4 linked regions of the Homo sapiens genome follow. The protein of the gene in region 4 purifies or fractionates together with the protein of the main gene of each other region. This does not show direct contact. Each region holds a gene or a part of one and is shown on either strand. Other genes may lie near its edges.

Region 1 (5,188 bases), on a different chromosome or scaffold from region 4:
CCTCCAACACAGATGCCCTCCCGCCGAGGGAGAACCTTTGGTAAAAGTGAGGGCAGGGCCTGGGGAGCAGGGGTGAGCAATCAAAGGCCTGAGACCCTGCCTAACACTTGAGTCAGCCCTGTCACAAAGGGCCAGTTGTCCAAAGGGCCAGATGGGAGGCAGGGTGGGGATGTGTCCTCAGCTGAGTCCCGACTCACCAGGAGAGGCTGTCGGCAGAGTTCTAGATTTCTGGGTACAGCAGTTGACAACAGATGTGCTCCTCTGCATAGCTCAGATTATCATGTCCCTGATCACAGCTACCCAGGAGCTCGTGGCCTCAGCGTTGTCAGATAAGCTACAGCGCAGGTGCTCAGGCAGCTGATCTCCATGCCATTTTGTTCTTTGCTTCTGTGAAGAGCTGTCTTCCTCCCAACAGATAAGCCTCCACTGGCAGGCTCTGGGATCCCACCTCCGGAGGAGGAGGAGGAGGAGGAAGGGAGAGCTCCCTGAATCAGGGACACAAGCTGGAAGGCCATGGCTGGGAACAGATTATGTCCGTTGCTTCCCGGGACAAGAAACCCTTCCTCTTTTATAGTTTTTAGGAAAAAAATATTTTTTTTTTAAATAAAGTTCCTTAACCCTGTCTTCCCTTCCCAAAATGATATTTAAAAAAAAGTGATGAGCCTACTTTAGAAATTCTCTCAGTAAAAAACAGCCTTTGCTTACGGTAGCTGGCCCACTGCCCCCCCTATCCAGGGCTGGACAGTGCCACCTCAGAGCTACTCAGAGGTCCCTGGCAGAGGCCAGATCCCCCATAGGCTGGGGGCCATCTGGCTGTTCAGTCAGACAGGCTATCTATCCGTATCCTTTCTGGACTAACAGGTTCCCTCTCTTCATGTGGGCCCACTGGGGAGGCCCCCGCAGGGTGGGCAGGGGGCCCCGGGCCCTCCTGTCAGATGGCATTCTCGTGGGAGGCTTTGTGCAGCAAGGAGTTACGCTCGTTGAGAAGAGTTGTGGTCTCGTCCACCACAGGCAGCTCAGACTTCTCGGCCAAGTTCTCCATGTGGGTGGTGCACCCGTCTATGGGAAACTGAGGGCTGTTCTCCATGCGAGAAGCCAGCAGCCCGTTCTGGTACTGCTGCCGAGTGATCTGCATGAGGAAGGGATGAGTTCATGGAGGGAGGGGCTGGGAGGCAGACCCTATCACCAGGCCTGGAGAAACAGGGCCAGGATTGAGGCTGTGAGTTGAGAGAGAACATGACCAGTCAGCGTCTCTGGAAGCCCTTACAAAGAACAAGGTGCACGAACAAGAGAAGAAAGCATCTCAGGGCTGGGCACAGTGGCTCACACCTGTAATCCCAGCACTTCAGGAGGCTGAGGCGGGCAAATCGCTTGAGCCCAGGAGTCTCAAGCCAACTTGGGCAACACAGTGAGACCCCATCTCTATAAGGGGAAAAAAAAAAAAAACCCGAAGCCACATGCACACCTGTAGTCCCAGCTACTCAGGAGGCTGAGGTGGGAGGAATCCTTGAACCCAAGAGTTCAAGGCTGAAGTGGGCTATGATCACACCACTGCATTCCAGCCTGGGCGACAGAGCAAGACCCCATCTCCAGAAGAAAAAGGCATCTCGGGTTTGGGCCCACCATGCTGGGTTTGGTGGATGAAAGTAGTAGCTGATTCCTGAGCAGAAGATAGCACTGCCCAGACAGGGCAGTGAGGCACTCACCTTGATGTACTGCAAGTCCACGAGTGCCCGGACGCTGAAGTCAGAGATGTACTGGCCCAGGACAGAGCTGCCAAACTGGTTGCTGCTGCCTGCCAAGGTTGCTGCAGTTGAGACGTCTGTGCGGTCTGGGTAACTGAGGGAGGCTGAGCGGCTGAGTGGGGTGGGGTGTGCTGGGGAACGGTCTGCAGGGAGAGCAGAGGTTGTCATGCCAAAGGCCACTCCGATGCCCACTCTCACCCTCATGTCTCACCTCATCCCATGGAAGCCCAGGGACACCCCACCCAGGAACAGGAAGTCATTCTTAGGGACAAACAGAAGCATGTAGAAGGTCTGACTGCATAAGGTCTGACTTCGTTAAAGCAAATGAATTAGTTTGTTTAGAACTATTGTGCAACAAGTATTAAAAAGTCTACCAAAACAAATCAACCAAACAGAAAATAAAAACCACAGACTTAGAAAGTTTATGGCTACAAAATCTCTCGTTTCCCACAACAACCAATCAGTCAAGGGCAACACAATGATCATCCTAGCAGGACAGGCAAACTGCCATTCTTAGGCTGGGCACAGTGGTTCACATTTGTAATCCCAGCACTTTGGGAGGCCGAGGCAGGAGGATGACCTGAGGTCAGAGTTGGAGACTAGGCTGGCCAACATGGTGAAACCCCATCTCTACTAAAAATACAGAAATTAGCCAGGCATGGTGGCAAACACCTGTAATCCCGGCTACTTGGGAGGCTGAGGCAGGAGAATCGCTTGAACCTGGGAGGTGGATATTGCAGTGAGCCAAGCTGGCACCACTGCACTCCAGCTTGGGTGACAGAGCAAGACTCTGTCTCAAAACAAACAAGCAAACTGCCATCCTTGTCTCAATACCAGCTTGTATCAAGTGACATAAACTGCATACTTTTAAATAAAAAATATGCATTAAAAGGAAGAATGTATAGTTTGCACTCTCTCTCTGTGAATACACACCCCACACATAAGATGCCCCGTCACACCTTTTCTTTGGAGACAGAGTCTTACTCTGTCACCCAGGCTGGAGTGCAGTGGCATGATTTTGGCTCACTGCAACCTCCGCCTCCCAGGTTTAAGCAATTCTGCTGCCTCAGCCTCCTGAGTAGCTGGGATTACAGGTGCCCAACACCACGCCTGGATAATTTTTTTTCTTTTTCTTGTTTTTTTGGTTTTGTTTTGTTTTTGTTTTTGTTTTTTTGAGATGGAGTCTTACTCTGTCACCCAGGCGCATTCCACCATGCCTAGCTAATTTTTTTTTTGTATTTTTAGTAGAGACGGGGTTTCACTGTGTTAGCCAGGATGGTCTCGATCTTATGACTGCTGGTGATCCGCCTGCCTCAACCTCGCAAAGTGCTGGGATTACAGACAGGTGTGAGCCACTATGGCCCTGCCAGCCCTGTCACCTCTTAAATGCTCTTATCAGGGGCTGGGCGAGGTGGCTCACACCTGTAAGCACCTTAGGAGGCCGATGCGGGCAGATTGCTTGAGCCGGAGTTCAAGACCAGCCTGGGCAACACAGCAAAACCGCATCTCTACAAAAAATACAAAAATTAGCCAGGCGTGGTGGCTTTTACCTGTGGCCCCAGCTCCTTGGGTGGCTGAGGTGGGAGGGTCACCTGAGCCTGGGAGGCGGAGGTTGTAACGAGCCGAGATTGTACCACTACACTCTGTCCACCCGCCGAACACCCAAAAAAGAAAATGCTTTTATGGAGTCAAAAGTGTGTTTTGCACACAACCTACTCAGCGTGAAACACAGTCCTACCCACTTCCACCTGCAACCCAGCCAGCCTGGCCGGGGCGGGTCAGGGTGACAGGCGCTTCTCCCCTCTCATGAGGCAGAGTTGTAACAATCTCGAATCTCGAATAAGAGTTGTAACAATCTTGAATAAGGAAGAATGGGCTTCTTATTTTGAAAAAGAAACTGCTTTTTCAAATGATATACGTTACTGTATATCATTAACTTGTTTTTGAGAACACAGGAAACCATGAAACGCACAAAGAAGTTAATTGTGAAGACATGCAGGATGGTTTTAAACAAACAGGAAGCGGACTAAGCTGATTTGCTTATTTAACTATTAAGTTACTAAGTTAGCCATTCTAACAAATTGCCAAGTGAAGAGAACAAACATACTGAATCTAGTGACTCAATGACCAATACAATTTTTAACTAAGGGCGCGCGCGCGCGCGCGCGTGTGTGTGTGTGTGTGTGTGTGTGTGTGTTGGATAGCTAGGGAAGGAAGAAGAGTAGAGATGAAGAACAAAGGGGAAAATAAAAATTAAATGAGACAAAAGAGGGACCTGGTAAGGTCTTAGTGGGTCGTGAACTGAGGATAATCATTAATTCAACTCTGAACCCAAGATCTAATTAAATAAAAAAAAAAGAGAGAGAAGTCTGAGTTCAAGTCTTTATGACTGACGTTATCAAAAGTGGTTTCATGTTTATGTAGCTCTGTATTTTGTAGATTTGAGAACATTTTAGCTGGAAAGCTAGTAATTTCATGTTCCTAAAACATCTAATTATTTTCATAAAACTGAAAAGAAGGTGTCAGCCCCCCGCCCGGCCAGCCGCCCCGTCCGGGAGGGCGGTGGGGGGGTCAGCCCCCCGCCCGGCCAGCCGCCCCCTCCGGGAGGGAGGTTGGGGGGGGTCAGCCCCCCTGCCCGGCCAGCCGCCCCGTCCGGGAGGTGAGGGGCGCCTCTGCCCGGCCGCCCCTACTGGGAAGTGAGGAGCCCCTCTGCCCGGCCACCACCCCGTCTGGGAGGTGTACCCAACAGCTCATTGAGAACGGGCCAGGATGACAATGGTGGCTTTGTGGAATAGAAAGGCGGGAAAGGTGGGGAAAAGATTGAGAAATCGGATGGTTGCCGTGTCTGTGTGGAAAGAAGTAGACATGGGAGACTTTTCATTTTGTTCTACACTAAGAAAAATTCCTCTGCCTTGGGATCCTGTTGATCTGTGACCTTACCCCCAACCCTGTGCTCTCTGAAACATGTGCTGTGTCCACTCAGGGTTAAATGGATTAAGGGCGGTGCAAGATGTGCTTTGTTAAACAGATGCTTGAAGGCAGCATGCTCGTTAAGAGTCATCACCAATCCCTAATCTCAAGTAATCAGGGACACAAACACTGCGGAAGGCCGCAGGGTCCTCTGCCTAGGAAAACCAGAGACCTTTGTTCACTTGTTTATCTGCTGACCTTCCCTCCACTATTGTCCCATGACCCTGCCAAATACCCCTCTGTGAGAAACACCCAAGAATTATCAATAAAAAAATAAATTTAAAAAAAAATAATAAAAAAAAAAAAAAAAAAAAACTGAAAAGAAGCCAGGGTATAACAACAGAGACTAAACTGAGTAATACTCTATCTTTGTGCTTAAGTAAAGCTTTGATTTTTATTTATAAAACTAGGAAACTACAGTTTCCTAGTTTACAGTTTATAGTTTATAGTTTCTCAGGAAACTGGCCATTCTA
Region 2 (5,452 bases), on a different chromosome or scaffold from region 4:
CATCTCCGTCACCCCCAAGGACGAGGCCTGTGATGCGCCAGGTGGGAGACCCCTGCCTCCCTCGCTGCCGTTGAGTCTCACATAAATGGCTGTTCCCCGCAGGCTAACACCTGGCTATTCTCTCTGGGTGGTCTCCGCTCTCTGCGAGTGGGTCTCTTCGGGCCAGCGGTGTCAGGACTCGCCCACCTTGCCGAGCGTGTCCTCTGCTTTCTCTGTGCTGCAGGCCAGCGTCTCACACTATGGACACAATGCAGCTCTTCCACCCCCTGGTGGATGGCCGTTGGTGTTTTCCCAGTCTGTGGAGATCACAGCTGAAGCGGTGAGAGTCCTGCTGCTGGTCTGCGTGGAAGCTCCCAGTCTGTGGAGATCACAGCTGAAGCGGTGAGAGTCCCTGTGTCGGTTTGCGTGGAAGCATGAGTGTTTTCCTTTTTCCTGGGTGAACACTGAGGAGGGAGGTTGCTGGGGCATGGGGCAGCAAATTTTTAATTTCATAAAAACTGCCAGCCTGCTTTCTGGAGTGGCTGGACCATCTGCACTCTCGCCAGCAGTGCCACCCTGCTGCCCGCCTGCCAAAACGCCACTTGGCCTTTCGGCCTGGCCTCCGTGGTAGCAGAGCCTTAACTCTCTCTGTGGCTTAAATTTATCTTTCCTGGTAACTAATGATGTTAAATACATTTTCTTGTGCTTACTGACCATTCTTATGTCTTCTTTTGTGATGAATGTTCAAATCTTTCATCTTAAAAACAAAACTGAGTTGTCTGTCTGATCGTTGAGTTGAAGATATGTACTGAAAGTATTTTACTCTTGTCTGCCTTTTTACTTGATTAGTACTATGTTTAGAAGAGCAAAAACTTAATTTTTATGAAGTCCATCATGTCAGTTTATTCTCCATGCATCACGATGTTCATGCTTAGGAAGTCTGTGCCAATCTGGGCACAGGTTGGGGGGCCCTAGAACCCACCAGAGCCTGGCCCTCCTCTGAGATTTGCACACACTGAAGTTTACTCTGACAAACTTCACAGCAGGTACAAGGACTCTTGAAACACAGAGGTTTCGAGGCCCTCTGGCTGTTGAAACACAGAGGTTTCGAGGCCATGTGGCTGTTGAAACAGAGGTTTTGAGGCCGTCTGGCTGTTCGTTCTAGATGTGGGAGAGTTGTTTCTCTTCTCTGAGGCATCCCTGTCCCCAGCTTCTTATCCAATGTCTGAAAACATTTGTTTCACGTGTTTTCTTGTGTTTTGCATTTAATTAGGCTTGGAAGATAAATCTGTTTATCACGGCTGGAAGCAGAAGTTCTCAAGACCCTCTCTGATAAACCCACAGAGCCTCCCGTTCCTGCAGGTCTGGACACGGCTCCCCGAGGGACCTGCCTGTGCTCCTCCTGCCCAGAGCTCTCTCTCGGAATGTCATGCACCTTCTTGGTGCTCAATTAAGGTTCAATCTGACTTTAACGAGAGCACTCACAGGCTATCCATCTGAGTCACTAGCAAGGGTAAAAGAAGACCCACACCCAGGAATGGCTGCTATGATGTGGCGCTGTGTGTGAGGTCCTCGCCGGCAGCTGCCAGAATCTCTGGGGAGACAGACACCTCTGGCCAGTTCAGACTAGCTTTTCCCAAAGCATTTTCGTGGAACATGAGTTGTGGGCTCATGAGATCAGAAGTCTCTCTCAGAGCCTCCAACTTGCCAAAGTGCACAATGCTGCACCCTACAGAGGTTCCCCATGAGGACTTGGCCTAGGAGCTCTCTTTCTCGGGGAGGGCATGGCATTCCCCAGGCCTGCTTGGGGGGCAAGGGCAGAGTGGGCTTGGGGGTCACAGGAACCTCCCCAGGCTGTCCTGTCTCTCCCAGCCCCTCCTGCTGCCCCATCCCCCATCCCCCTAGGCTTCCCCATCACCACCTTTGCGGCCCCCATGGTCCCTGGTCCCTCCCTGGGTTTCCCTGCTGTGCACTGAGTATGCCTAGTCCTTCCTGCTCTTGGGGCCTCTTGCTTCAGGAAAGTCACCTGGGCCAACAGTTCCCTCCAGAGCTGATGAAATGAATGCAGATGAAAACCATATTTGTGGAATTAAATTCTATCAACTGTCCTCTAGGTTCTAGAGCCAGTTTATCATAGACATGATTTTGTTCTAGTTAGATGTTATTTTGTAAAAACATCATGTTGATTTTTGTTCAATTCTTGGTATTTATTTCCTAGGTGAAGGCAAACTCATTATTTATTTTCAAAGAAGCTTAACTAAAGGCATCGCCCCTCCAAAGCTCCCACCTAACCCAATTCAGAGTATGAGTGCTTAAGAAAGTCACAGACGTTTCTTTTGTGACGGACACTCAGAGTTACTTTACATGAAGCCCATTATAAAGAAGAGCTGTAGGAACAGGAGCTGGGGACGCTGCAGAGCACTCGGGCTGTGAGGCAGGCACAGGCCTCACTAACCCAAGCAGTAGTTCTTTAAAGAATAATCTCCATGGTCCCCCACATTTTCCTTTTCATGTTTCAAATCCATGATTTTTAAAATATGAAAGAAGGTGAGAAGGGTTATGCTTTTCTATGACTTCCAAGGAAGAAACACACTGTTCAAACTCAAGATGCAATCAGTATTACTGTGCAAATTCTGTACTATTTAAAAGTAACTAGGCTGGACGAAGGGGCTCATGCCTGTAATCCCAACACTTTGGGAGGCTGAGGCAGGTGGATCATTTGAGGTCAGGAGTTCGAGACCACCCTGGTCAACATGGCAAAACCCCGTCTCTACTAAAAATATACAAAAATTAGCTGGGCGTGGTAGCACATGCCTGCAATCCCAGCTACTTGGGAGGCTGAGGGAGGAGAATCACTTGAACCTAGGAGGCAGAGGTTGCAGCGAGCTGAGATCACACCACTGCACTCCAGCCTGGGCGACACAGCAAGACTCTGTCTCAAAAAAAAAAAAAAAGCAACTAATGTAATAATTACTGTAAATATGTAGGCAATGGGAAAACTTATTTAAAAAGCGTTAGCACTTATTGTACCTTTAGGATTTTTCACCTTTGTTTGAAGTACTATAGGAAACACTACTGGAATTCACGGAAAGCTGAGAATATTAGCACAAATCCTACCACCATTTCCATCAACTGTATGGGCTATGAGTTGGTAGGTTGCTGGGACATTCTTTGGTCACGTAGAGTCATGAAATAAGGTTCAAGTTGACACCATGGACGCACAGTGCTGTCCTGTGCTACCTCATACTGGGGCTGAGGGAGCCTCAGCGGCCAGGAGAGCCCAGGGCCGATGACGGCGCTTTCCTTGTGGGCCACAAAAAGAGAGTCTGCAATGCTTACGATCATGGGGGTTATTCCCTGAGTGATTACAGCAGGCAGGGGCCTAAAACAGAGGCACTTGTGCGAAGATGAAGGGCTAGGGGTGAGAGAAGCCTGAAGACACCTGCGAAGGTTTCCCTAGGCTCTTACCTACTTTATTCAAAGTGATTTTTAAGACCACAGGACAGGCTGCTGCTATCTTGGGAGGAACGGTGCTAACATGTGCAGGCGAAGGACGTGGAGTCCGAAGCAGGTGCCCCAGGAGTCTTGGTAGCTGTGAGCCCCACAGCTCAGCTGTCCTGAGGCTTGGGGTGGGGGGCCTAGAATCCGCCAGAGTCTGGCCCTCCTCTGAAATTCGCATGCACTGAAGTTCACGCTGACAAACTCACAGCAGGTACGAGGACCCGATATACCTTGTGCCTTGTCCTTGTAGAGCACGCAGGAGAATAGGACGCTAACTGGTAATACAACTGCGCAGCCTGGGGGTGTGAAGGTGCATGGTGGGGGGGGGGGTGCGGGGCCTCCCAGGGAAGCAAGGACAATGGGGACATCTGGCAGTGGTCTAGGCCAAGGGGACATCATGTGTGGAGGCCAGAGGACAGAGAGGACCTGAAGACTGGAGACGGAAGGAAGGCAGAGACCCAAGTGCCAGCTCTGTGCATGCTCCTTGGACAGCTCAGGATGACGGGGGCGCCTCTCAGTGATTCTAACTCAGGAAAAAGGTGACTTAAGAGGACCTCACATGTTTAACAAAAACCTAACACACGCACAGACTGATATTTCCCTGTATTTTGCTAAAATTGTGAGGAACTCCTGGGATTCAGGGAGCTGTCGAGTGAAACGGTGTTTAGACTGCGGACTAGAAACAGCTATGCAGGGAGAAAGGACTCTGTTTCTCTGTGGACCTGGGGTAAGCTCAGTGGCTGCGTGACGGTGAGGAGCAGCACCCGGCGCCAGCCCCTGACAACTCAGGTCTGAGCTGGGCCTCCCACGGGTGAGTTCCTGAGCTCTCTGGGTCTCTCACTTTTCTCACACATGAAGTGGGGACAAGGTGAGGATGAAAGCACGTTCAACGCCAAGAGCATCGAAGCCAGTGGCTGTTACTATTCAAGTATTTTCTGAGACTCTTTGTGGAGTGGAACCTGGTTAAGGTGGGCATGAGCTTTGCAGAGGTCAGGGAGGTCAGTGGCAGATGAGAGGCTGCTTTTAGTTTGCTGCCAACACCAACAGTCACACTGATTTCATTTCTAGTCATAACCACAGAGGAGGAGGAAAAGAGAAATTCCCACCTATTCCCTCTTCACAGGAAGCTCCTGTTTTGCAGATACAGCAGCAAAATCAGCTCAGCTTTCAATGCACGTCGCATGCCTGCTGTGCTTTTGGTGTCCTTTTCTAAGACACTGCTGCTGTTATCTTTGTTTTTTGAGATGGAGTCTGACTTTGTTGCCCAAGCTGGAGTGCAATGGCACGATCTTAGCTCACTGAAACCTCCCCGTCCCGGGTTCAAGTGATTCTCGTGCCTCAGTCTCCTGAGTAGCTGGGATTACAGGCACACACCACCACGCCTGGCTAATTTTTTTGTATTTTTAGTAGAGACAGGGTTTCGCCATGTTAGCCAGGCTGGTCTCGAACTCCTGACCTCAGGTGATCCACCCACGCCCACTTCAGCCTCCCAAAGTGCTGGGATTACAGGCGTGAGCCACCGCGCCCAGCCCTGGTGCTGCTATCTTTGAAAATGAGATTCCATTCCTGCCCAGGAGAGACCAACAGTGTTTGCTTCGAAGCATGCCACACCATGTCCCTGCACTTCCTGTTCTCTCTTTGCTGCTGGCCACGCCGCACAACAGGATGAAGCCCCAGCCAGGGGAGGGCAGCCTGCAGAGAGCCGGGAGGGCCTGTCAGTGGCCACTCTGCCCCTCCGCCTTCTGCCACGGGACCCTTTAAAAATCTCAGATCCAACACAGTTCCTGACACAAACTATGGCTTCCACTTGAAAACAAAATCTAATAAGAAAATCCCAGGAGGAACAAGTGTGCAGGTGCTGTCTTGAAGTTCACCCAAGTAAAATGTTGTTTTTACATCAGTATTATTCATTCTAAATGATGACTGTATCAAGAATCTTCTATATACGTTTTTTGTTTTTTTTTTTTTTTTT
Region 3 (4,828 bases), on a different chromosome or scaffold from region 4:
GTGTCCTTCAGTGGATGAATGGTTAAATAAACGGTGGTACATCCATACCATGGAATACTATTCAGCAATAAAAAGGAACAGAGTACATGCAAACTAGATGAATCTCCAGAGAATTATGCTGAGTGAAAAAAGCCAACCCCAAAAGGTTACATACCATGATTCAATTTATGTAACATTCTTGAAGTGAGAAAATTATACATGCGGAGATCAGATTAGTGGTTGCCAGAGGTTAAGGGCAGGGGAAAAGGAGATGGGATGAAAGGGCAGTGGGAAAAGGGCAACATGAGGGCTCCTTATGGTGATGGAAATGCTCTGTATTGTTCATGTCTCGGTCATGCTCTGGTACTGTAGTTTTGCAAGCTGTTACCCATGGGGGCAAGTGGGTAAAGGGGTACACGGGGTCTCTGTATTATTTCTTATAACTCCATATTAACCTACAAGTATCTTAAAATGGTTTTTGTAAGCCAATAATTCTGTAACTTCTTAATAAAAGGTTAATGAACATTAAGAATTAAAGTAAGAATTTCAAATATCAATCAGACAGGTCTGAAAAAAGGCAATACTAGCCTTGGCTTTTTTTTTTTTTTTTTTTTTTTTGGTGAGATAGGGTCTTGGTCCGATGCCCAGGCTGGAGTGTGGTTGTGTGATCATAGCTCACTCACTGCAGCCTCGATCTCCTGGGCTCAAGTGATGCCCCACCTCAAACTTCTGAGTAGCTGGGACTACAGGGACGCACCACCATGCCCAGCTAATTTTTTTGATTTTTACCAGAGATAAAGTCTATGTTGTCCAGGCTAGTGTCGAACTCCTGGGCTCAATCAATCCTCCTGCCTTAGCCTCCCAAAATGCTGGGAGTATAGGCATGAGCCATTGCACCTTGCCTAGCCTTGGCCTCTTTTTCTTTTTTTTGAGACAGTCTTGCTCTGTCCCCCAGGATGAAGTGCAATGGCGTGATCTCGGCTCACTGCAACCTCTGCCTCCCAAATTCAAGCTATTCTCCTGCCTCAGCCTCCTGAGTAGTTGGGATTACAGACGCCTGCCACCACGCCCGTCTAATTTTTGTATTTTTAGTAGAGACAGGGTTTCACCATGTTGGTCAGGCTGGTCTCGAACTCCTGACCTCATGATCCACCCATCTCGGCCTCCCAAAGCGCTGGGATTACAGGCGTGAGCCACCACGCCCGGCCCTGGCCTTTTAATTTGGGTCTCTTTAGGCAGTCCCTTTTTCTGATTGGCTATTTTTGTCCCAATTCCTCTTTGCCCCCCACTTGTTCCTTCTACTTTGGGTAAGAAAAATCATTCATATTTCTTGTATTATTTTCAAGTCAGCATGTTTTTGCGTGAGGGCCTCTCTTATGGAATAAGTGCATGGACTTTTTTTTTTTTTTGAAACAGAGTTTCGCTCTTCTCGCCCAGGCTGGAGTGCAATGGCACAATCTCGGCTCACTGCAACCTCTCCCTCCCAGGTTCTAGTGATTCTCCTGCCTCAGCCTCCCCAGTAGCTGGGATTACAGGCCTGCACCACCACGCCCAACTAATTTTTTTTTCATATTTTTAGTAGAGATGGGGTTTCACCATGTGGGCCAGGCTGGGCATGGACTTTTTAATAATGATTAGTAATCTCGGAAAATCTTCTTAGTTTTAGAGGAAGCACTATCTGGAGAAATGAAAATAAGGTCTTGAATTAAAATATCTGATTCGGCAATAAGGGTTAAGCTTATTTTGTTTGAACGTCACCAAACTTGTGTATGTAAAGTACAAGGAAAATGGCTGAGAAAAATTCTTCCCTTTCTAACAAAGAAGTCAGCATGGTAAAGACAGATATATTTATTTCATATGACAGCACGTTTCACAGGATATGTACAGAATGTCTGTGTACCACTGACTTTAATACTGTACTTCTATAAAGTTTATAGTTATAAATATTGTATGCCACATAAGCAATAAAATTCTTACATATAAACAGCAATCTAATATAGAGAACACAGAGTTCACAAAGAGATCCTTAGTGTCTAACTTCTGCTCTGCTTTTAACAGAACTAGTAAATATTTAATAATACATAGAATAATGGCTAGTTATTTGCAGCATACCTTTAACTTTCATAACTTTGTGCATTTTCAGCAACTTGCCAAGTATAATTTTCCTGATAAAGGCTGGGCTGCTGATATGTATATTTTAGACAGTAGTTTATATTCAATAGGAAACATTGCTCACAGATCTGCAATTTGCACTAGTGAAGTTTACCTAACAATGAATTATTTTGCTAATGGAGAGCAAATACCATATACACTAGTCACATGGATGTTAAAGCCACAGTTTCAACAAGTTAATTCACATTTTGAAGCAACTGCTTATAGTAATACTGCTGTTTAAGACGCTACTGCTGAAATGATTAGAACCTCCAAAAAGCACAATATAAAACTCACAAGAGTTATTTCTAACAGCAAATCTTGGCTGTTAACAGAGAAGATTACTTCTATAAATATAGTATTTTGATAACATTTGAGCATTTAGAAAAATGCTTTTTTTCTAATAGATTTGCTTTATAAGTGCAGTGCAGTTTGCTGTGCTTTTAACATTCTACATATTCGTAGCCATGAACGCTATTTTTTGATATTCCCTCAATGTACATCTTTAAAGGTTAAGTGTGGACATAGGAATTTAGGTGGACATATACAACTCTTTATATAAAAGGAATGTTAATGTAAGTCTTAATGGGTAAAGATGATTGTAACTGAAACTGACAAAGAAACAACTATTGCTCAAGGAGTTTTCTGATTGGTTTACTTAATGATATCAAAATACTACATTCTGTAAAAATTCTGTGTACTTCTTCAAAAAATTAATAAAAGCGGGATCAGTTGCATATTGGCAGTGCAGGAGACAAAATCCGCAGCTACTTTGAGGTATAGCCTCTAAAAACTTAAAGCAGCATCATAGATGTGTTATGTAGCCTCGTAAGAGGGGGGAGAACACACACTGGGTATATTCCCAATTCAAAGCACTCAGGGGACAGCTGCTTTCCCTGCTAAAAGCAAAGTTCCAGAGCAAAAGCAGCAAAAAGAAAATATGGGAGGGATATGGGCAACGTATACTCGAACGTACGCAGAGAAGAGAGTACGGTTAGCTCTAATATTTCTCATTGAACTTGGTGGTATGTGCCTTCCCTGCATATAAGGCCATAGTGCTTTTTTGGGAGCGCTAGAATATCCATCCACTTGACAGTGACCACAAAATAGGCTGTTTCCAGCTGCAAGAACCTCCTCCTGGAGAAAAGCGTATGAAGGTGCTGGAGTGAAAAGTAACAAGGTTGTGTGTATTTGAAGGGGTTGGGTGTGGAACGGTAGAAAATTCTGATTCTGTGGTGAGATTATTCTAGTTTTGAAAACAAAATTAATGAAAGGTCCAAATTACATTTGCAGCCATCTTTTTGGTAATGTGATATTGAAAAAGGGACTTTGTTGGAACTTTTAGGTATAATTTGGTCTGAGTTATAGCCTAGAAATTAAAGTATGAATTGTAAAAATATGTAAATGTATACAGAAGTACATGTGTTTGTATGTATTATATATGTACACATACCTATACTTTTTTCCTTTAAAGCAATGCCTTTCAAAACTCTGTTCACTGTAACCTTGGCAGCTCTTTGGTAAATACTCAAAGATACCAATTGTTAACAAGTATGAGAGGGCTGGTGGAAATGTCAGCTGAAAGTTGGGTGGGCTTTTTGAGATTCTTCAGAAGACTGACCGAAAAGTTTCTGAATAAGGACTGTTTTCTAAAGTATAAGTACTTTTTATGGCTACTACTGTCTCCTATTCATCCAAAGAGAAATACATCAAAACTCCAGTTAACAATGAGAAGGGTTTTTCCTTATTTCCAATATACACATAGTCCAACTCTGTACACATCAAATAGTGGTGTTTTGTGAAGATATCAGTGCACTTACAATGACTTATTGCACATAATGAAATACTAATGCCCAATTCTCTTAGCTCTATCCTGCCAAAAGCAAGTACCCACTGTTTTCTATTGCATGGCGTTATCTTTCTGTAAAGTCCAGTGTGGGTGAAGCCTTAGAGGCCAAGGTCGTGAAAGGATCTACTGGAGGGCTGGTGCCGGGCGGGAGCAGAGGGACAGGAGGTGGAGGAGGTCTTCTTGACGGCAACACACAGAAGGAGACATTTGTACCTTTATTCCAGTCATCATTCAATGTCAGGTTGGAGCCAGAAAATGAACTTGGCTGATTACCCAGTAAGTCTGAACAAGCTGACTTTGACTTCCCTTTCACACCAAAATCCTCTTCTTCCTCGAAGGTTACCCATCCTTTCGGGTTGCTAATTTTTAATGTAGACTGGCCCTGTAGATCAAAACTGTCCTTAAAGCCATCAAGTGAAGATGAAGCCCTGCTTTTGTTATGACCAAGAGGCTGCAGAGAAGGGAAAGGACTGATAGTAACGGGCTCTTCTTTGGAGAACCATGAAGTTGCCTCTGATTCTTCAGACTTGGCTCTAAATGGGTTTCCAGGAGCAGCAGTCCTGTCACTGAAAGGATTTGTCCTGGTCAAGCCAGTAATAAATGGGTTTGGAGAACTTCGCATATTTTCCTGGGATTGACTCCGAGCTGGAATTGGAGGCATTGTTGGCATGCAACTTACAGAACTCAAAACATTACTTTGCGTTGCAGAAGGCAACTGAATCAACCTCTTTGGGTCTGGGGTGGGAACAGGTGACGTTTGAACAGATAGCTGAGCCTTTGATACAGCAAGCAGATTAAATGACAGATCTTCAAATGGGTCAATCTTTAATGGTGATTCTCTTTTGCCAT
Region 4 (5,452 bases):
ACAGCTGTCTTAACTAGATATACTTTTTACACCAGAACTTCCATGTGCTTCAGAAATTTGGGAACAGGCCTTTATACATGATACATCATAAAAAAGCACATTTCTCTCTACTTGTACACAATCCTGCTTGTCTTCAGATGAATCTCCTTTACATGGAATGATCTTCTCCTTTTTCCTGTGCATAAAATGCAGACCTTGCCAACCGGCTTTTGAGCAGCTTAACAACACAAATGTTTAAATAACTTGTAAAATGCAGACTATATAAATGTTGATTTCTATATCCACAAAGGTTTGGGATTAATAATTACATAGAATTTTAAATATTCACTGTAGCATTTCCTAAGAGAAAAAAGGGAATAATTAAGTAATTTGGGGGACAGCAGTTCAAAAGATATTGCTGAATCCAGTAAATACATGAATGTTTAATGATGTTAAGGATGGTGATACATTCTGAGAAATGAGTCATCATTGTGACTTCATCGTTGTGTGACCATCATAGAGTCACTTACACACACCTAGCTGATGTAGCCTACCAAACACCTGAGCTGTATGGTGTAGCCTGTTGCTCCTAGGCCACACACCTGTACAGCATGTTACTGTACTGAATACTGTAGGCAATTGTAACACAATGGTAAGTACTTGTGTATCTAAACATATCTGAACATAGAAAAGGTACAGTAAAAACACAATATAAAAGATTAAAAAATGGTGCACCTGTATGGGGCACTTATCATGAATGGAGCTTGCAGGACTGGAAGTTGCTCTGGGTGAGTCGGTGAATGAGTGTTGAGTAGATGTGAAGACTTAGGACACTGCACTACTGTCGATTTTATAAACACTGTAAACTTAGGCTACACTAAATTTATAAAAAATAGTTTTATTTCTTCAACAATAAATCAACATAGCCAGACAGTGGCTCATTGTAATCTCAATGCTTTGGGAGGCCGAGGCAGGAGGACTGCTTGAGCCCAGGAGTTCAAGGTTACAGTGAGCTATGATTGCACCACTGTACTCTAGCCTGGGAGACAAAACAAGACCCTGTCTCTGAAACAATAATAATAATTTATTAATTAACCTCAGCTTGCTGTAACTTTTTTACTTCATAAACGTTTAATTTTTTTTTTTTTTACTTTCGACTCTTTTGTAATAACACTTAGCTTAAAGCACAAACACACTGGACAGCTTTATCAAATATTTTCTTTATATACTTATCCTATAAGCTTTTAAAATTTTTTTATTTTTAAACTGTTTAAGCATTTTTGTTAAAAACTAAGACACAAACACATACATTAGCCTCGGCCTACACATGGTCAGGATCATCAGTATAACTGTCTTCCATCTCTACATCTTCTCCCACTGGAAGGTCTTCAGGTGCGATAACAGGCATGGAGCTGTCATCTCCTATAATAACAATGCCTTCTTCTGGATACCTCCTAGGACCTGCCTGAGGCTACTTTACAGTTAACTTTTTCTTTTTATAAGTAGAAGGAGTACACTCTAAAATAACAATAGAGTATAGTAAATACATAAACCAGTAACATAGTCATTTATTATCGAGTATTATGTACTGTACAGAATTGTATGTGCTCTATTTTTATATGACTGGCAGTACAGTAAGTTGGTTTACACCAGCTCACCAAAAATACATGAGTAATGCATTACTATGACATTACAACAGCTGCGAGATCACTAGGCAATAGGAATTTTTCAGTTTCATTGTAATATCATGGGACCAGTGTCATATGTGCAGTCCATCATTGACTAAAGCATCATGACTGTATAGTAAGGATGACATGGTATAACAATATTAACAGACAAATGACTAGCCACCTCGGACACCTACCTGGAAACGTCTACGTCAAAAGACATTTCAGGCAGATCAAAGATTAACATGTAAAAAAGAAATAACAAAAACACTAGAAGAAAACACAGGAGAATATCTACAATAATCTTAAAGTGAGAAAAGCCTAAATATGACCAACAAACCAGAACAAAACCAAGAAAATCCAAAAGCTATAAAAGATTTGACATAACTAAACACAATAAGGACAAAAAATTATTCAAATGAAGTCAAAAGATAAAAAACTGGGGGAAAAAAGATTTGCTTCACATAGCATACATTAAGAGTTAATTTCTTTAAATACAGAGAGTTCCTCCAAAAAAGAAAAAGGCCAACAATCCAAACAAAAAAGAAGACAGTTCATCAAAAAAGAAATGCATATGGTTTTTAAAATACATGGGAAAATATTAAAAAGAAATGTAACATTCCAACCACACTGGCACAGTCTTCCTACATTGCTAGTGGGAGTGTAACCTCTCTGGAGGGCAATTTGCAATACCTATTAAAATTACAAATTTACGTACTCTTTTACTCAGCAACTCTACTTCTAAGAATTTACCCAATAAATATATTTGTTCATGTGCAAAACAAAGCATGCCATGGAGATATTAAATGCTGAGAAAGATTAGAAACATCAATGTCCATCAATAAGAGGCTAGTTAATTACTGTACAGCCATAAATGGAATATTATTCAGCTCTTAAAATGAATGATGTGACTCTGTATGTAATGAAATAAGCTGATATCTAATATACTGCTCAGCAACAAAAGCAAGGCACAGAAAATATCATATATATAGCATGTGTTTGTTATCTGTTGCTACATGACAAACCAACTTTAGTACATTACTAGCAACAGCTCACAATTTTTCAATTCGGACAGGGCTTGGCAGGGAAAGCTTGTCTCTTCTCCACATAGCACCACTGGGGGTGGCCTGAATGGGGCTGGCAGTTCCACTTCCAAGAAGATAGTTCATTCATCACATGGCTGCCAAGTGGATGCTTGCTGCCGGCTAGGGGCTCAGATGAGGCTGTTGGCAGGGACCCGGTTCTCTTCCATGTGGCTTCTCTTTATGACTAGGTGGGGACCTCACAGCTGGGGGCTTCTGGGTACTGAGAGGGAGTGTCACAATAGCAAGCACTCCTCTAGAACACATTTCAAAGTGCAAGCTCTTATCAAACCTCTGCTTGCATCACACTTGCTAACACCCATTGGCCAAAACCAGTCACACGGCCAAGCACAGTCAATATGGGCAGGAATTACACGGAGCTTGAATACAAGGGTGTGTAGTTCACTGAGAGGGCTACAATTCTGTCATGGTGCTAGGACTACCTGTGTGAAACAAGAGAATATCATACAAATGGATGCTTGTATAGGCATGGATTATCTCTGGGACAGTGCAAAAGCTAGTACAGAATTTGAGGAAGATTAGGCAGCTGAAGGGGACCAGGTGGCTGGGATACAGAGAATTACTTTCACTATATAATTTAACTGTACAATACACACATTACCAAAATCTAAAAATTAATTTAAAATTAAAATAACATGAGCACAAAGAAGACTCAGAACAGTGACTTGATTGTAGTTGGTGTTAATTAAATACTTCTTTAATTAAAAAAGAACCAAGGATAAAAGAAAAACTAAGAAGATATTCAAAGACATTCATTTTCATATAGTACCTTATTAGGCAAAAACCTCTTCCTCATAATAAGAAAGACATAACCCTCAACCATCTAGTTTGTTGGAAAAACAAATCCCTCATGATAACCCAGTTTACATTTTTTGGTCCTCGCTCCAACTACAACTTTACAAACCCCAAACCATAACAGCAGCCCTTAATTTCTAGAATGTTGATTCTATGTTTCTGCCAAAAGGGTTTGCAGTAGTACTGAAAGCAATTTCTTATTATCAAACACTACTCAGAGGCCCCCCTTTCTAGACAGGCAGGTTTTTAAGGCCAAGCAGTTACAGAAGACAAAGCCTTGCAAATAACATATCTCTACAAAACACTAAAGTATCTGTTGGTCTAGGAACAACCTCATTAAACAACTGGTAGTGTTTGGATAGTTTTAAGTGTAGACACAGGGCATATGCATGCTTTTAATTCAGTTCTTCAATTAAGATGATCCTTGGGGGAAAAAACTCTCCTGATGAGTTTTAAAAAACAAACACAGGTTTAGATTTAAGGGCCCATCAAAGAGTCACAGAAATGGAGAGCAGGCCAAGGTTCCACATGGATATCCCAGAAAGCCTTGTGAAAGCCCTAGTTTATCTAATTCCCACTAGATTCTGCACTCCTTACGGACAGACATTTGGGACATTTTCTGCAGACCCAACACCAGGCTTTAGAATGACTTTTTCTAGCTTTTGAATTTTTGATAAATGATGGTAGACGTCAGGATGAGAAAGGACTGGAAGCAGAGGAGGCCACAGAAGGGAGTCCAAAAGTGAATTTCAATTCTCTGCTACCTCTCTAGGTACCCAAGTCACACGAAATTTGCTGAGAGTGCCAGGGCTTTTAAAATAAAATATAGGTTAAAAAAATAACTACTGATTCACCAAGATGAAGCCAGAAAGGAAAACAAAATCTCTGGATAAGCCATTCTGATATGAAGAAATCAGAAACTGGGTGGCATGTTTTCATGAAGGCTTTCAAAGCCAATCTGATAGTGAAAAAGCAGAAACAACATGCTTTGTTAGAAAGTGGCTGTGATCACAAATCAAAAAATACTAACTCATGTACAAGTGAAGGACCACTGGCCACTTTGGAGGTCTCTTGATCACTCTTGGATTCCCATCAACCTTAAATAGGATACCAGTCAGTCCCCTGCTGCCTATCCTCAAGAATTCTTTCACTTTGAAGGATGTATAACACCCATAACAACTTATGAGGCAAACATGTTATACATGAAGGCAACTTTTCCAATATATCACCTCCCCCCATACAACTTAACACATCTGAACTTTCATGGGATTCAAAATACAAAAAAGTCCGGATTCTTTCATATGCACGCAGATCCAATAATAACAAATAATTAATGATTCTGAGTGTTATTTTATGAGGATGGCATTTTATATCCCTCATGCTTAGGGCAATTCTAGAAGGAGATATTATCACCATTTCACTGTTGAAACTGACTCAGAAGCTTATCCAAGAGCACAAATCAACATTAAGTAACAGAGCTGGGATTTAAACGCTGCTGAGAAATCCGAGAGGCTCTGTATTTTTTAAAAACAACTTTTAGAGTAACCTTTTCTTTTCAGCCATGTTAATTATAGGAAGAGACTACAATGCAGAAAAGTGAAATGAAAATAAACAGCCATACCTGCAAGCAGCAAGCCAGGCTAACACACAAGAGAGCTGAGCTGCCTGAGCCCTGGCTTCACCCACTAGTATCTGTCACCTCAGGAAAACTACAGCAAAATATCCACACTCGCTCCACTTTCCTCAATATCCCTAATCAAGGCAACCACACTTACAGGAGAAGGCACACAAGACACAAGTCAGAGAAGACAACAGCTCTGGACCACGTACATCCTGAATATCTGGAATGAGTACTGCCTTGCTCGGCCTTATCTAAGAATTCTCTGGATGCCACAAATTCACAGGGGA

Evidence for each region.
Region 1: the proteins of ATP7B (region 4) and CNNM4 fractionate together in Homo sapiens (co-fractionation; one large-scale study listed by BioGRID). This does not show direct contact.
Region 2: the proteins of ATP7B (region 4) and ATP9B fractionate together in Homo sapiens (co-fractionation; one large-scale study listed by BioGRID). This does not show direct contact.
Region 3: the proteins of ATP7B (region 4) and SYNJ1 fractionate together in Homo sapiens (co-fractionation; one large-scale study listed by BioGRID). This does not show direct contact.

What each region holds. Positions count from the first base shown.
Region 1 is NC_000002.12:96,805,261-96,810,448, reverse strand, and holds part of CNNM4 (metal transporter CNNM4 precursor), read right to left. Parts: intron 3,254-5,188; coding exon of another isoform or gene 3,168-3,253; intron 1,889-3,167; coding exon 1,707-1,888; intron 1,218-1,706; coding exon of another isoform or gene 1,130-1,217; coding exon 932-1,129; 3' UTR 1-931. UniProt on the Homo sapiens protein: Probable metal transporter. The interaction with the metal ion chaperone COX11 suggests that it may play a role in sensory neuron functions. May play a role in biomineralization and retinal function.
Region 2 is NC_000018.10:79,348,253-79,353,704, reverse strand, and holds part of ATP9B (probable phospholipid-transporting ATPase IIB), read right to left. Parts: intron 1-5,452.
Region 3 is NC_000021.9:32,626,952-32,631,779, forward strand, and holds the end of SYNJ1 (synaptojanin-1), read right to left. Parts: coding exon of another isoform or gene 4,044-4,828; 3' UTR 1,812-4,043; downstream 1-1,811. UniProt on the Homo sapiens protein: Phosphatase that acts on various phosphoinositides, including phosphatidylinositol 4-phosphate, phosphatidylinositol (4,5)-bisphosphate and phosphatidylinositol (3,4,5)-trisphosphate. Has a role in clathrin-mediated endocytosis.
Region 4 is NC_000013.11:51,976,118-51,981,569, forward strand, and holds part of ATP7B (copper-transporting ATPase 2), read right to left. Parts: intron 5,388-5,452; exon of another isoform or gene 5,320-5,387; intron 1-5,319. UniProt on the Homo sapiens protein: Copper ion transmembrane transporter involved in the export of copper out of the cells. It is involved in copper homeostasis in the liver, where it ensures the efflux of copper from hepatocytes into the bile in response to copper overload.